4 linked regions of the Homo sapiens genome follow. The protein of the gene in region 4 purifies or fractionates together with the protein of the main gene of each other region. This does not show direct contact. Each region holds a gene or a part of one and is shown on either strand. Other genes may lie near its edges.

What was found. The genes of interacting proteins can lie anywhere in the genome.
Region 1: the proteins of PRG3 (region 4) and COL6A2 purify together in Homo sapiens (co-immunoprecipitation; 2 studies listed by BioGRID and IntAct, with this or other methods). This does not show direct contact.
Region 2: the proteins of PRG3 (region 4) and GID4 purify together in Homo sapiens (affinity purification with mass spectrometry; 2 studies listed by BioGRID and IntAct, with this or other methods). This does not show direct contact.
Region 3: the proteins of PRG3 (region 4) and FRAS1 purify together in Homo sapiens (co-immunoprecipitation; 3 studies listed by BioGRID and IntAct, with this or other methods). This does not show direct contact.

The regions. Positions count from the first base shown.
Region 1 is NC_000021.9:46,108,094-46,111,611, forward strand, and holds part of COL6A2 (collagen alpha-2(VI) chain isoform 2C2 precursor), read left to right. Parts: intron 1-821; exon of another isoform or gene 822-2,003; intron 2,004-2,377; exon of another isoform or gene 2,378-3,356; 5' UTR 3,357-3,383; coding exon 3,384-3,498; exon of another isoform or gene 3,499-3,518. UniProt on the Homo sapiens protein: Collagen VI acts as a cell-binding protein.
Region 2 is NC_000017.11:18,045,890-18,049,407, reverse strand, and holds part of GID4 (glucose-induced degradation protein 4 homolog), read right to left. Parts: intron 1-3,518.
Region 3 is NC_000004.12:78,448,805-78,452,322, forward strand, and holds part of FRAS1 (extracellular matrix organizing protein FRAS1 isoform 1 precursor), read left to right. Parts: intron 1-1,346; coding exon 1,347-1,535; intron 1,536-2,967; coding exon 2,968-3,087; intron 3,088-3,370; coding exon 3,371-3,518. UniProt on the Homo sapiens protein: Involved in extracellular matrix organization. Required for the regulation of epidermal-basement membrane adhesion responsible for proper organogenesis during embryonic development. Involved in brain organization and function.
Region 4 is NC_000011.10:57,378,111-57,382,574, reverse strand, and holds the start of PRG3 (proteoglycan 3 precursor), read left to right. Parts: upstream 1-1,424; 5' UTR 1,425-1,461; intron 1,462-1,793; 5' UTR 1,794-1,866; coding exon 1,867-1,927; intron 1,928-2,767; coding exon 2,768-3,081; intron 3,082-3,762; coding exon 3,763-3,894; intron 3,895-4,464. UniProt on the Homo sapiens protein: Possesses similar cytotoxic and cytostimulatory activities to PRG2/MBP. In vitro, stimulates neutrophil superoxide production and IL8 release, and histamine and leukotriene C4 release from basophils.

The sequences.
Region 1 (3,518 bases), on a different chromosome or scaffold from region 4:
ATATATATATATATTTTTTTTTCTCTTTTTTAAAAAAACTTTGTTCAGATGATTTTCTGGGTAGACAATCCTATCTTTAATAAGGACAGTTTTGTCTCTTCTTTTCCAACAGTTATACTTTTATTTTTACTGTCTTATTGCATTGGCTTCCAACACAACACTGAATGGTAGCGTAAGATCTGCACTGTTTGCCCCCACCCCATTTTTTTTGTACTGTAGTAAGCATTCTTCTAATGCAGGATTTTTTAACCCAGGGTTAGATCTACGAATGGAATCCCTGAATTCCTGGACATGATTTCTGTATATGAGCATCTATGCATTTGTGTAAGGTGAAATTGTGTAGACTCTTAAAAGGGTCCATGACCACAAAGATAAGAACCACTATTTTAGCTTTTTGTGTAAAATATGATGTGAGCTCTTGATTTGAAATGTATATCCTTTATAGAGTTAATTCTACTCCTAAATTTCTTACTAGGTTTTACCTTGTCTGGCTGTTGTTGTTTCTTAGTTAGAAATTGATGTTTCAGGGATCTATTGAAGCAATTGCATATTTTTTCCCATTTTATGTTAATGTGACTTACATTAATGTATTCCCTAGTGTTTGTGGCAACACTGTACTTTAACTTCATATTATAGTTCTGGTATAGTGGTCCTTAATATGCTATTGGATTTTAGTTTTTAATATTGGCTAGAATTTTTGTGATAATGTTATGGGATTTTTAGGGTGTCACTTTTCTGGCCTGAAACCTCTATGGCCAGTGGCGCCTTTGCCCAAGTTCTTGTCCTGTGTCCAGGAAGAATGAGGTACACAGACAAGTGGAGGGTGTGCAAGACAGAGAAGCTTTATTGAGTGTTAGGGGAGCTCACAGGAGACCCGCAGGGGGCAGCCCCTCTCTGTAGGCGGGTTGTCTTGTCGGCGGGTTGTCTTGTCAAATGTTCAGCTCTCAGCAGAGAGAAGGCCCTGGAGTGGGTGGCTCCTCTCTGCAGGCAGGTCATCCCATTGTCTCTGCAGCTCTTAGCAGAGAGGAGGCCCTCGAGAGCGTGTCTCCTCTCTGCAAACAGGGCATCTCAACTAGTGTTCAGCTCTCAGCAGAGAGAAAGCCCTGGAGAGGGTAGCTCCTCTCTGCAGCTGGTCGTCCTGACATCCCTTCAGGTCCTGAAGCTCTCAGCAGAGAGAGCACCTCCTCTCTGCAGCTGGTCGTGCCATGCTCTGCCCTGCTCTGACTGAGCCTGGGGCTTTTAAAGGCCTCAGAGAGGGGAAGTGCATGCTGATTGGTCCATGTGCAGCCATGTGCAGGCCCAGAAGAAAGCACCTTGAGTTCCCCTCTGGTCCGTAGGACGGGCAACCCGGCCCCCAGGCTTCAGGCCTGCCCCAGCCTGAAGGTGGGGCTTCACTGGGGACCCATCCTCTTCTGCCCAGGAGCCTATCTGCCTCCTGCAGCCATCCATGGTGCCCAGGCTGCTGGTACCAAGGGGCACCGGTGCCCAGCCACCCTCAGCACCCCCCCAAGCCTCCCCTCCTGCACTTCTCAGTGCCCACAGTTTGGAGGGGGCCAAGTCAGCAGGGGGCTGGCATGTCAGCACTGCCACAAGCATGCACCCACCCGGCCAGGCTGTGACAGTGCCCAGGCTCAGCCCCAACTCTGCTCTGAGATTGGAGTGGGTGGTGGGAGCGGGAAGAAGCTGGGCAGCGGGAACAGGCACCTCCAGGCCTACAAGGGAAAGAGGGGCCTTCCCTGGCTCCCCAAGAGTGCAGCGATGCCTGGGTCAGCAGCCCCAGTTGGGGCAGCTGAAACTGCACCAGGAGTGGGGGCTGGCTCCTGCCTCCTCCATGGAGCAGAAGGCCCAGATCCACAGCCACGACTTGGGCAGTTGTACCTGGGGAACTCTCACCTCGCCAAACTGCAAGGGGCAGGGATCCCACTTATCCCCGGCTCCTGCTGGCTCCGTGGAGCATGGTACCTGGCCATGTCCTCTCGCAGCCTGGGGCAGGGTCTCCAGACCTGGGCCAGCATCCCAGACAGGGGCAACACCGCCGTGAGCTCCCCTTCACCCAGCACACCACCCGGCCCGGCCCCATGGCAGCGGCCCCCAGGGAGGCAGTCTGCGGGGTTGGGGGCCTGTCTGCCTCTTCCATGGGCCCTCCCTGAGCAGCCAGTGTGATGGCAGCGGCCACACCAGATGGGCTGCCGCTGCCATCAGTAATATTTATAGTGATATTTATCTGTAGAGTTACTTTTAGGGACTTTTTTTTTTATCAAGCTTTGGTCACAGGTTATGCAACATTTAAAAATGAATTGGGAAAAAGTTTATCTTTTTATGTTCTAAAACAAGTTAAATAGCATGAAGTGCTTGTCCTTGAAGCTGTGAAACTCACCCACAAACTGCCTGAGCTGGCACCTTTGGGAACGGACTTCATTCCTCCCTGGGCCCCAGGCTGAGCAGGTCTGGCCTGGGTCACCTCATCCACTCCAGACGCCGCAAAATCACAGCAACCCTTCAGGGCCCTCTCCTGGCAGCGCCTCCCCTAGTCCCGGTGCTTGGACACTCCTCCCATCTGCACCGAGGAGAGGGCGGCACTCCAATCCCTGCATTACCCCTGGAACTGCACGCTCTGAACCAGGCCCGGTGCCCTTTCTGCCCAGCTGCCCGGCTGCTGCCAGCCCCACTCTGCGGAGCCAGCAGCACAGTGAGGCCCGTCCTGATGGCCTCCTGGAGCTGGAGCTTAGGCCAAGCCACAGGGCATCAGGGAGGATGGACGTTCAAGGGCTGGATCTGTTTGCCCCAGGGTCCTGGCACCCAACAGAAAGGAAAGCCAGGCTAATGACGGCTGTGTCCCTACACTTGACAGAGTCCTCCCTCCCTCCTTATCAAAGTCCTGTTTAAAGGGAATGGAGCCAGGCTGGAGAGAGAGTGCCTAGCTCTGCAGGGGAGCCGGTCTGGGGAAGCTGGGATCTCTCTCCCGCCCTCCCCTCTGCACTGTTTCCAGGGCAGCCCCAGGCAGTGGGGGGCGCCAGACAGTGGTGCTCCATTCCCTTCCATGCCGACGCGCCCAGCTACCCACTCCACCCAGCCCTGGAGGACATGGAAGGGCCTCAACCATCCAAATCCCACCCAAAACTGAGCCCAGAGGCACCCACTAAACATCTGTGACCCCACCCAGGGTGGGGCAAGAGGGCGCAAGCCCCCCAGTCCAGATGCTGGTGACGGTGTGTGCTGGGCGCAGACCCCGCTTCCTTGAAGACTGAGGGCAGTGCCCCCAATCCCGCTGACCTGCTGTGCGTGCGCCTGCCATGGGGGAGGGTGCCAGGGGAGAGGCACTGGGGGTGTCTGAGCGACCCCCACCCCTGTTGCAGGACTTCAGGGCCACAGGTGCTGCCAAGATGCTCCAGGGCACCTGCTCCGTGCTCCTGCTCTGGGGAATCCTGGGGGCCATCCAGGCCCAGCAGCAGGAGGTCATCTCGCCGGACACTACCGAGAGAAACAACAACTGCCCAGGTGCCAGGGGTCGGGGGCCG
Region 2 (3,518 bases), on a different chromosome or scaffold from region 4:
GTGAGGTAGCTAAGAGGCCATTTAGCTCCTTTTTTTTTTTTTTGACACTTATCTCCTTTTTTTTTTTTTTTTGACACGAAGTCTCACTCTGTTGCCGAGGTTGGAGTCCAGTGGCATGATCTGAACTCACCACAAACTCTGCCTCCTGGGTTCAAGCGATTCTCTTGCCTCAGCCTCCTGAGTAGCTGGGATTACAGGTGCCCGCCACCATGTCCAGCTAATTTTTGTATTTTTAGTAGAGATGGGGTTTCACCATGTTGTCCAAGCTGGTCTCAAACTCCTGACCTCAGGCGATCCAGCTGCCTCAGCCTCCCAAAGTGCTGGGATTACAGGCATGAGCCACTGTGCCTGGCCTATCTCCATTTTAGTAGATACTTTTCCATACTGTATACGTGAGGAAGGCAACTACTATGACTAAAACCCAAATTATAGTTTAATTAAAATAAATTAAAAATTTGATATTTTTGCCAGGCACGGTGGCTCATGCTTGTAGTCCCAGCACTTTGGGAGGCCAAGGTGGGTGGTTCATCTGAGGTCAGGAGTTCAAGACCAGCCTGGCCAACATGGTAAAACCCCATTTCTACTAAAAATATAAAAATTAGCCAGGTGTGGTGGCACATGCCTGTAATTCCAGCTACTCGGGAGGCTGAGGCATGGGAATTGCTTGAACCTGGGAGGTGGAAGTTGCAGTGAGCTGAGATCACACAACTGCACTCCAGCCCGGGTGACAGAGCAAGACTCTTCCTCAAAAACAAAAAATAAAAATAAAAAATTGATATTTTAACAAACATAAATGGAAAAGAAAAAAAACCCAAATACAGGTACAAAATTTATTCAAAGATTCATTGTAGTTTTCTGCATTTTACTATTATCTACGGCAACCATATACTAGACTTATAATTTTAAAAGTTATCAGGCTGGGTGCGTTGGCTCACGCCTGTAATCCCAACACTTTGGGAGGCCAAGGAGGGTGGACATTTGAGGTCAGGAGTTCGAGACCAGTCTGGCCAACATGGCGAAACCCTGTCTCTACTAAAAATAAAAGTTAGTTGGGCAGGGTGGCGCACGCCTGTAATCCCAGCTACTCGGGAGGCTGAGGCAGGAGAATCGCTTGAACTTGGGAGGCAGAGGTTGTGGTAAGGTGAGATCACACCACTGCACTCCAGCCTGGGTGACTGAGACTCTGTCTCAAAAAAAAAAAGTTATCGGCCAGGCGTGGTGGCTCACACATGTAATCCCAGCGCTATGGGAGGCCGAGACAGGCGGATCATGAGGTCAGGAGATCGAGACCATCCTGGCTAACACGGTGAAACCCCATCTCTACTAAAAATACAAAAAAATTAGCCGGGTGTGGTGGCGGGCACCTGTAGTCCCAGCTACTCGGGAGGCTGAGGCAGGAGAATGGCGTGAACCCAGGAGGCGGAGCTTGCAGTGAGCCGAGATTGCACCACTGCACTCCAGCCTGGGTGACTGAGCGAGACTCCATCTCAAAAAAAAAAAAAAGTTATCACATAGTTGCACAACTTTGTGAATACACTAAAAACCAATGAACTGTATACTTCAAATGGGTGAAATGTATGGTATGTGAATTATCTCAATAAAGCTACTAAAAAACATTATTTAAAAAGAATTCTTCTACATCTAAGGCCTGAGCAGGACTTGCTTTAACGCAACACCCCTGCAGCAGCATAACGTGGTCTATTTATTGCTGGACCAGGAACAGGCAACTCTGGGGAGGGTATGTGCTCATCGAGGCCACGCCATCTGCAGAGGTTCTGTTAAGAGCCTAGGGCTCCCCTTGGGTTAGCCCCCATTGAAGGGCCATTGTCAGTGCCCCCTCCTCAAAGGAGCCTGACTGCTGCTCTCGACTCACGGGGGCTTCCTAAAGGAAGGGCTACTTGTTCCCGATGGAGAGCTCAATGCCATTAGCATTTCTGTATACTTCTTCAAGATTTCGAATGCTACTTACCATTTCTGTGCAGCTTGTTATCACCCAAATGACTGGTTTTGGAGTCAGCGTTAACATTCCAATGCCTTACACACTTGCTGGTTTCCTTATGAAATTCAGTGTTTATGTTCTGCACCCAGTTAACTAATGTATTTGGCTACCTGAGAGTTGAGCATATTCTGTTTTAGTATCTTTTCTCCTACCACAAACCCAAAGGCTGGAATCCTGTATTTTGCTATCACTTCTACTCCTACTTGATTTGATACAATTCTCGAGTTAAAGAAGAAATACCTTTGGTCTCAACAACAAACTTCATAGGAGATCCTTAATCAGTTAAGCTTCTAATAGAAAAGCAGATAGGAACCAGGAGCCAGAAACTTGTCTTAAGACTGAGGCTCATCAGGACTTTACAAGAGAATCACATATTAGTACCATATTTGAGTCTGTCATTTTCTCTAACATTCTTTCCTTACCCCCAGAACAAGTCCACTGATTGTCTTAGACAGAGCAGGGATTTTTTTTTTTTTTTTTTTTTTTGAGACAAAGTTTCGCTCTTGTTGCTCAGGCTGGAGCGCAATGGTGCAATCTTGGCTCACTGCAACCTCCGCCTCCCGGGTTCAAGCGATCCTCCTGCCTCAGCCTCCTGAGTAGCTGGAATTACAGGTGCCTGCCAACATGCCCAGCTAATTTTTATATTTTTAGTAAAGATGGGGTTTCACCATGTTGACCAGGCTGGTCTTGAACTCCTGACCTCAGGTGATCCATCCACCTCAGCCTCCCAAAGTGCTGGGATTACAGGTGTGAGCCACCACGCCCGACCCCAATTTTTTTTTTTTTTAAAGAGAGAGGATCTTCCTAGGTTGCCCAGGCTGGAGTGCAGTGGCTATTCACAGGCATGATCACAGCACATTGCTGCCTTCAAATCCTAGCCTCAAGCGATACTCCAGCCTCAGTCTTCTGAGTAGCTAGGACTACAGGCACACAACACCATGCCTGGCTAATTTATTAAAAATTATTTGTAGCGACAAGGTCTTGCTATGCTGTCCAGGCTGGTCTTGAATTCCTGGCCCCAAGTGATCCTCCTGCTTTGACCTCCCAAAATGTTGGGATTACAGGTGTGAGCCACAGCACCCAGCCTGGAGCAGGAATTTTTAATTCTCAACTTCGCAGATGAGGACACTGAAAGAAGTTAAAGGTCACAGATGCAGGAAGGGGCAGAAGAAGAATGCCACCCCAGCTCCTTTCCACTGCCCCATCCAGCACAGCACTCTGTCCAAATACTGCTGGATCATCAGACCATGAGAGCTGACAAAGGCCAGAGGCCCCCTGCAGCTAGGTCCAGCCTGGGCATTCCCAGCATTCGGAGGGCCAGTCCAGCTACCTCCTTCCACTTCCTGTTTCCTTGCTAATGGAAAAGAAAGGATGCTCCTCCTTGCTTTCTAAAGTCCCAGGAGTTCTGAGGTTTAAAAACTTGGTTCAAAGAAAATAAAATACTCTGCACAGCAGGTACTTCTGCTGGAAACTAGATGGTCACTTCCCCTTTTTTTTCTTTCTTTTTTTTTTTTTTTGA
Region 3 (3,518 bases), on a different chromosome or scaffold from region 4:
TTAACATTCACAATTTTGCTCATGTTTAAGCAACATTGGAGGACCTGTGACAAGTGTGAGTCTTGAACAGTTTGCAGTAGGAAGTTACTTAATTAAGAAGTGGACCTTTTGCCCAGGGTGTCTGCATCTTACTAGAGTTCTGTTGTTTGTTTGTTCTTAGTTTCATGTGTATTTTGCAGTGAAAAATGTATGGTATAATAGTATTGGAAAACTTGGTAGTTCTCAAAGGTCTTAAATATCAAGTCTGAGATTTGACTTTATCCTACTTATAAGCTAATAAACTATCCTGTTACTGTTTCATGGATGCTGGTAGAAGATACAAGATTCCTCCATCAGAAATACGGCACTCTTGTTACTTATAGCACAGCAGGCAGCATGGGCATCAGCAGGTTTGCATCGGCTCCCTCTGCCATCCCAGTCCCATAGGGGTGATGTAGAGGGCCCAGACAGACACTTTCGTGTGCAGTAGGATGCATCACAGAGGGGAATACTGAGCTTGGGGAATTCTCCATGTTACAGCAGCAGAATGCAAGTCTTATTTTTGTCTGAGAGGAAGACATTACCTCATCCCTCAAGGTTGCTCTCTGAGAAACGGCCTGGGTAAAGCATGGTCAGGGTCTTGTGTTCTTGGTATTACCCACTAAGAACATGTCACTCCAAACACCAGGATGTATTATGCATGAATAACTAGGCTCTACTTTACCGGGATTTACTATTTTTAACATGATAAAGCGGCTGGGTAATAAAGCAAGTGACAAGACCCTGAGAAGAGGAGTTTGCCATTAGCCAGGGCCTTATCTTCATCCCCAACACCTGCGCAGTGTCCAGGGCCCAGAGGCTCAGATCTCCTTGCTCCTAACATCCTCTGTCCTGAAGGATGCTGATTTTCACTACTTTGTCTGACATGGCAACAAGATATGTTTGAGTTTATGTAAAGCTATATTTTTCTGATTTGGTGATTCTCAAGACAGTAAGTAAACTAAATCCAAGCAGGTTTCATCATAGATCTAGGAGTTATTTTTGTCACAGAACTGGGAGTTATTCCACAGATCTAGGTATTAACTGGTAGGTCACTGAGTCGGAGGAGCATAGGAGAGAATGAAAATGGATCAGAAGGAAAAAAGTGCTTAGGTGTTGACTCAAGGGAAAATTAGTAAATTGAAATGTCGGTACTCTTTCACTAGGGAAATTATAATTTATTCAGCTGGAAACTGAGAAGGGCAAGTGCCTGGTACCTAGATCCAATGAATATGTGATAATTTAGCCTCCAGTCTCCTAAAATCATTTGACATCCCGTTCAAAGGAAATGTTGGGGAATAACCTACTCTCTTCCGTTCTCTTCCAAGGGTCTGTAGCACGCATCACAGAACAGCACTTGAAAGTGACAGATATTGACTCAGATGACCATCAGGTTATGTACATCATGAAGGAAGATCCTGGTGCAGGGCGCCTGCAGATGATGAAGCATGGCAACCTGGAGCAAATTTCTATTAAAGGCCCCATCCGAAGTTTCACCCAGGCAGACATTAGCCAAGGTCAGCCAGTTCTCTTCTGCCTACCAGGCTTCCGTGGACTGCACCTACACTAGTAAAATGAGAATTAAATATCTGGTAGTCTATGGCAATAAACTGTGCACTCTTTGTTTTGAGGAGCTTCATTTGTTCTCTTCCTTGTTTTCTTATTTTTTTTTTCTTTTTGTTTTTAAAAAAGCCCTATCTTTCTTGGTTGAAATGTGTTCATGCTTTGACTTAGCATTGGTGGCATTTGCAGCTATTTTGGAGAGAAAAAGTTATTTTGACTTGCTGTGATGCTAAAAAGTATATATGAGAGAGAGAGAAGGAAAAAAGAAGTGAGTTGGGATGGATTAAGGTGAAAATTATGCCTTCCTTAGGTGAGCAATTTATATCTCTTTTCAGCTCCCCAAAGAGCACAAGTTAATGAACTAAGCAAAATGGAAGGGCATAAATCGGAGCTGCCTAGGGGAAATTACATGGCACATCCCTCCATCAGGAAATGCTGATGTAATGTAAAGGCATAAATGTTAAATGCTACGTAGTTACTGTACAGTGCTTTCAGGGATACAAAAGGGAAAAAAAGTTATATATTGGGGAAAACGTAATCCACAGTCTTGTGATTATGTGCAATTCTGTTTAGAAGTGGAAATATACCCCTGCGGATAAAAAACAAGTGTCCCGCCCACACACTAACACCTAAAATTGACAACAGCTGAATTCTCATTGGAACTGGCTGTGCTTTAGTGAAGGGGAGTGGAAGAGGCAAAAGGAAAGTAATTCCTTAATTATTTCATATGTCGGTGTCTACTTTTAAAAGATAAGACCAGCCCCCTCTTCCCAGAGATTTGGTTATATTTACACAACCAAATTGAAAGATGCTTTTAAGTGATGCTGTAGGTTAACAAAAATGTAATACATTTTTGTTGTACTTCTCCTTTTAGATCCTTTTGAGTTCTATGTGGAGTTTATTTGTTGGTTGGCTATAGCCCATGTTGCTCCGTGAACTGGGCAATGAAAAGTGAAGAGTTCTGGGAGAATGTGAGGTGCAGCTCTGTGTCTTCTTGCCCTTGTGATTCCAATATATAATAGGGTCACTCCAGGTGATGTGGGTGTGGTCAGTGCACATTTACACATGGGCAGTTTTGTGGATCTCGTTTTCATGAGGTGTCCTTAGAGGCTGAGCTGATCTTCCAAAAAGGCTCAGCCTTAACCATGAGAAATGTCACTTGGGGTGATTTTGTTATGAGAAGGTCTTTGGTTATGAGAAAGTAGATGGTGGGAGAGGAAAAGGAGGAAATGAAAACTTTAGATTAAAATGTCAAAAGCAGTGTCAAAGCGAGGAAGGTGTGAACTGATTCATTGGTGTGAACACCAATTGAATTCACACCTCTTGCTTCAGAAATAAGGGCAGAAAGCACTAATAGCAAATCTTGATTTTTTTTCCTTTTTATAGGCCACGTAGAATATAGTCATGGAACAGGAGAACCTGGAGGGAGCTTTGCTTTTAAATTTGATGTGGTTGATGGAGAAGGCAACAGATTGATTGACAAGTCATTTTCCATCAGCATTCTAGGTAAAGAGACATTTGATTTTCTAATATAAAACTATTTTAGCAGTTCTGAGGTTATATAGTTTACACTTTGTTCACCTCGAGGCTCGAGTCCTTCCCTTTACCTAGCTGGTGTGGAAACTGAAAATCATACCCCCTTTATTGCACGAAGCCCTGGCTCCTTGGTGTGCTCTCTAACACACAGGCCTAGAGATGACTCTGACCTTACTTCTTGGCACCAGGCCTAGAATTAAAGAAAGGAGGCTGAGAAGATCCCATTTCAAATCACTATTTCTGATATTTTCAGAAGACAAATCCCCACCAGTCATCACCACCAATAAAGGACTGGTCTTGGATGAAAACTCAGTGAAGAAAATCACCACCCTGCAGCTGTCTGCCACTGACCAGGACAGTGGGCCTACAGAATTGATCTACAGAATCACCAGACAGCCCCA
Region 4 (4,464 bases):
GCTGCCTGTTTGCCAGCCCTGAAGCTATGCCTTGAGGTTGGGCAAGGTGGCATATCCTAGATCAGAGATCCTCAACTGGGGCCATTTTTCTCCCCAGAGGACATTTGGAAACATGTGGAGACATTTTTGATCATCTGCGGGGGTGGGGAGAGGGGCTACTGACATCTGGTGAGTAGAGACCAGAGGGACCATTAAACTTTCTACAACGCCCAGGACAGCCCCTCCACAATAAAGAGTTATTTGACCTCACATATTAATAGCACAAAGTTGAGGAACCTTGATCTAGATCCACAGCACAGAAGAAAGGATGTAGATTTTTCACACATTAAAGATGAGAAAGCTTGTGCCTGTAATCCCTGTGACTCAGGAGGCTGTGGCAGGAGGATTACTTGAGCCCAGGAATTCAGGGTTACAGTGAACTATCATCGCAGCACTGCACTCCAGCCTGGGTGACAGAGCAAGATTTTGTCTCTTAAAAAAAAAAAAGATGAGGACAGGCACAGTGGCTCATGCCTGTAATCCCAGCATTTTGGGAGGCCGAAGTGGGTGGATCACGAGGTCAGGAGTTCAAGACCAGCCTGGCCAGCATAGTGAAACCCCATCTCTACTAAAAATACAAAAAATTAGCCAGCTACTTGGGAGGCTGAGGCAGGAGAAGCGCTTGAACCCGGGAGGTGGAGCTTGCAGTGAGCCAAAATCTTGCCATTGCACTCCAGCCTGGGCGACAGAGCAAGACTCCGTCTCAAAAAGAAAAAAAAAAAAGATGAGAAAGAGGAAGGGAGAGAAAAAAGAGAGAGAGGAAAGAAAGAGAGAAGGTTTTGGAGTCAAAAAGACTTAGAAATTCCAGTTCTTCCACTTCCCATGGAACCTTGGCAAGTTGCCTTCTCTCTTTCTCTGAATCTCACATTTTGCCTCTGTGAAGTAGGGGTGGTACCTGGTGGAGATGATGCGGAGATGAGGGTGAGGGGTGTGTTGCACACTATGCCCCTAGGATGGGTGAGAGCTTGGGAGCACTGAACCTCCCTTTCCCCTCTTGTTTCTTCCCCCCATTGTCTCCCACCAGCTCCCTGGGATCTCCACTTCACTCTCTGGGATTCCACCAGCAGGAGGCTACTCCTGGAGTTAAGGCGTGTTGTTCAGACTGGGGCATTTTAGGGGGCATAAATAATAATTATGCCTGGACAATGGACATAACATCTAGGGCCTTCTGAAGCAAACCAGGGTGTGGGGTACCCAAACAAGGCAGTAGGCCCCAGGAGGCAGGTCCCTGCAGTCCCAGCAGAGAGCAGGGCACAGGGTTGAGAAGACTGAGCAAACTTCATTATCAGCTCCTTTGTCCCCCACTCTGTCCTGGAGCAATCATTCTGGCCTCTTCCCACTTCCCCAAAAACCCAGTATAAAGGCTGCTTCTGGCCCCTGAAGCCAGAGGCACTGAGAGTGGAGGTCTCAGACTCTTGGAAGGTGAGTTCTTTTCTGGCTGCCCAGGCAGGACCAGTGTAGGCCCTGGGAAGAAGCAGCACCTCATAGGGCAAACACGTAGGAGGCCTGTCCTTAGGAACATCATAGCTAAGCAGACCTGTCCCCGCAGGGGCAGGAGTCTGGGCTAAGGGTGATACTGGAGAGCAGCAACGGAGACTGGAAGACAAATGAAATTTGGTACCTGAGTTATCCCTCCCACCATTCCTTTTCTAGACTCTCCAGCTCAGGGTCTGTTCATGGCAAGAGGAGAAAGCAATCTTGTTTGCTCTTTAATCAAACAATTAAACAAATATTCCCTCTATACTATGTGCCAGGGGCTATACTAGACACACAAAGACAGCCCCAAGAAGGACGGTGGAGTAGTGTCCTCGCTAAAAGACAGTAGATATGCAATGCCTCTTGCTCCTGCCCTTTCTCCTGCTGGGAACAGTTTCTGCTCTTCATCTGGGTAAGTCTCTCCCTTCCCTCCTCATGCGTCTTTCCCTTTTTTCCTTTTTCCTACACTCCCCTCCCCCCGCTTTTATTTGCACTCATGAGGCCAGGACCACAGCCTTCCCTCTTTAGCTGATACAGCTCATCTCCGGTAAGATATCACTTGGACTCAGAACTGTAACCTGGAACTTTCTCTTTTTTGTTTGATTTTTTTTTGTTGTTGTTGTTTTTGTTTTTTTTTTTGTTTGTTTTTTGTTTTGTTTTGAGACGGAGTCTCGCTCTGTTGCCCAGGCTGGAGTGCAGTGGCGCGATCTCGGCTCACCACAAACTCCGCCTCCCGGGTTCAAGCAATTCTTCTGCCTCAGCCTCCTGAGTAGCTGGGACTACAGGCACATGCCACCACGCCTGGCTAATCTTTGTATTTTTAGTAGAGATGGGGTTTCACCATATTTGCCAGGCTGGTCTCAAACTCCTAACCTTGTGATTCGCCCGCCCCGGCCTCCCAAAGTGCTGGGATTACAGGCGTGAGCCACCGCACCCGGCAAACTGTAACCTGAACTTTCAGAAGGAAAAACCACCCACCTGTTAAGATGAAGGGCTGGTGACTGCCCCAGGCTTCTCACACGTGCTTTCTCCCACCTTCAAAACACACACTCGTGGTGTCGGCCAGAAGTCAGGTTCTTGTCCATTTGTGGGTGTGACCCGAGAGATCTCTCCTTACCTAACACCAAGGAAATCCTCCAGTCTTGTCTTCAGGTGGAATTCCTAGGAAAGCTCGAGCGACGTTGCTGGAGCTGTCCACGGTGCTGGAACTAGGAAGCTCTTGACCTGATGGCAGGTTACCTCTTCTTCCCAGAGAATGATGCCCCCCATCTGGAGAGCCTAGAGACACAGGCAGACCTAGGCCAGGATCTGGATAGTTCAAAGGAGCAGGAGAGAGACTTGGCTCTGACGGAGGAGGTGATTCAGGCAGAGGGAGAGGAGGTCAAGGCTTCTGCCTGTCAAGACAACTTTGAGGATGAGGAAGCCATGGAGTCGGACCCAGCTGCCTTAGACAAGGACTTCCAGTGCCCCAGGGAAGAAGACATTGTTGAAGTGCAGGGAAGTCCAAGGTGCAAGATCTGCCGCTACCTATTGGTGCGGACTCCTAAAACTTTTGCAGAAGCTCAGGTAAGTAGTAGGGAGGCTACTGCGGAGGACCTGGGGGAAAAGAGAGTACATTCAGTCTTCTGTTCCCTATTCATTTAGGCTAGTGGTTCTCAAAGCCTCGCATGCATCAGAATCACCTGGAGTTGTTGTTAAAACACAGCTTTCTGGGCCTCACCTGCACGACTTCTGATTTAGGAGGGCTGAGGTGAAGCCTGAGAATTTGCATTTACAACAAATCCCCAGGTGATGATGATATTGTTGGTCTGGGGAGAACCACCGATTTAAACAAAAGGCTTTGGTGTTAGAAACGCCTGTGTTAAATTCTGGTTCTGCCTTTTATTAGCTGTGTTACCTGGGCAAGTTGCTTTGCCTTTCAAAGCTTTAGCACCTTCATTTGTAAAACGAAGATATATAGCACCAACTTCTTAGAGTTGTGGTGAGCATTAAATGAGATAATACATGAAAAGTGTTTGGAATAGTCACTGGGCTGTAATAAACTCTCAATAAGCGGTGGTTATAATTATTATGAGTATTATCATTTCCTGTAGGATTGTCCTGACAGCTAATTAAGAAGCAAAAGATAGGATTAAGGGAGGCAAGTAGGTTTATTTTTAACCTGAAAAGGGATGCCGGGCTCTTGCCTGGAGACTCAGAAACTTGAAATAAATGAGAGGGAATTCTCTACTTTGTTTCCGTCTGCAGAATGTCTGCAGCAGATGCTACGGAGGCAACCTTGTCTCTATCCATGACTTCAACTTCAACTATCGCATTCAGTGCTGCACTAGCACAGTCAACCAAGCCCAGGTCTGGATTGGAGGCAACCTCAGGGGCTGGGTAAGTCAGGGGCCAAATCTTGGGTGCAGTAAGTTCTTTCTGAATGTGTTAAAGTAGCATCTGATGGTGCCAAGCCTCAGGCCAGCAGCTAAGGTTTCCTTAATGTGGCAGGCAATGATGTGCTGGAGATGGCTTGTACTGGCTCAGGAGAACTGATGGTGCACATCTCTTACCAACTCCATGCTCAGTGACTACATGCTTGCAGCTTGACATCAGCCATGGTGGGAGTATTTACACAAAGGAAATAGGCAATTGCTACACATCAGGGCTCCTTTCTACTCCCCATCCTCCCACCCACCCCAAGAGCTGGTATAAACATTTACCAGCATACCACTGGAGTCATGAGACAGAGTCCAGGCCCAGCTTAGTCACTTAGAAAGCTAGTTAAATAGGTTTCTTGGAGCCTCTGTTTTTTTTCAATCCCTGAAATGGGGACCTTCTTCTCTCAGGGTGGTTCTGGAATTGTGGGTGAATAAGTGGCATTATATTTGGTACGGTCCATAGATCAGCAGTATGGTCCATAGATCAGCAGTACCACCATCCCCTGGGAGCTTGTTAGAACTGCAGAAT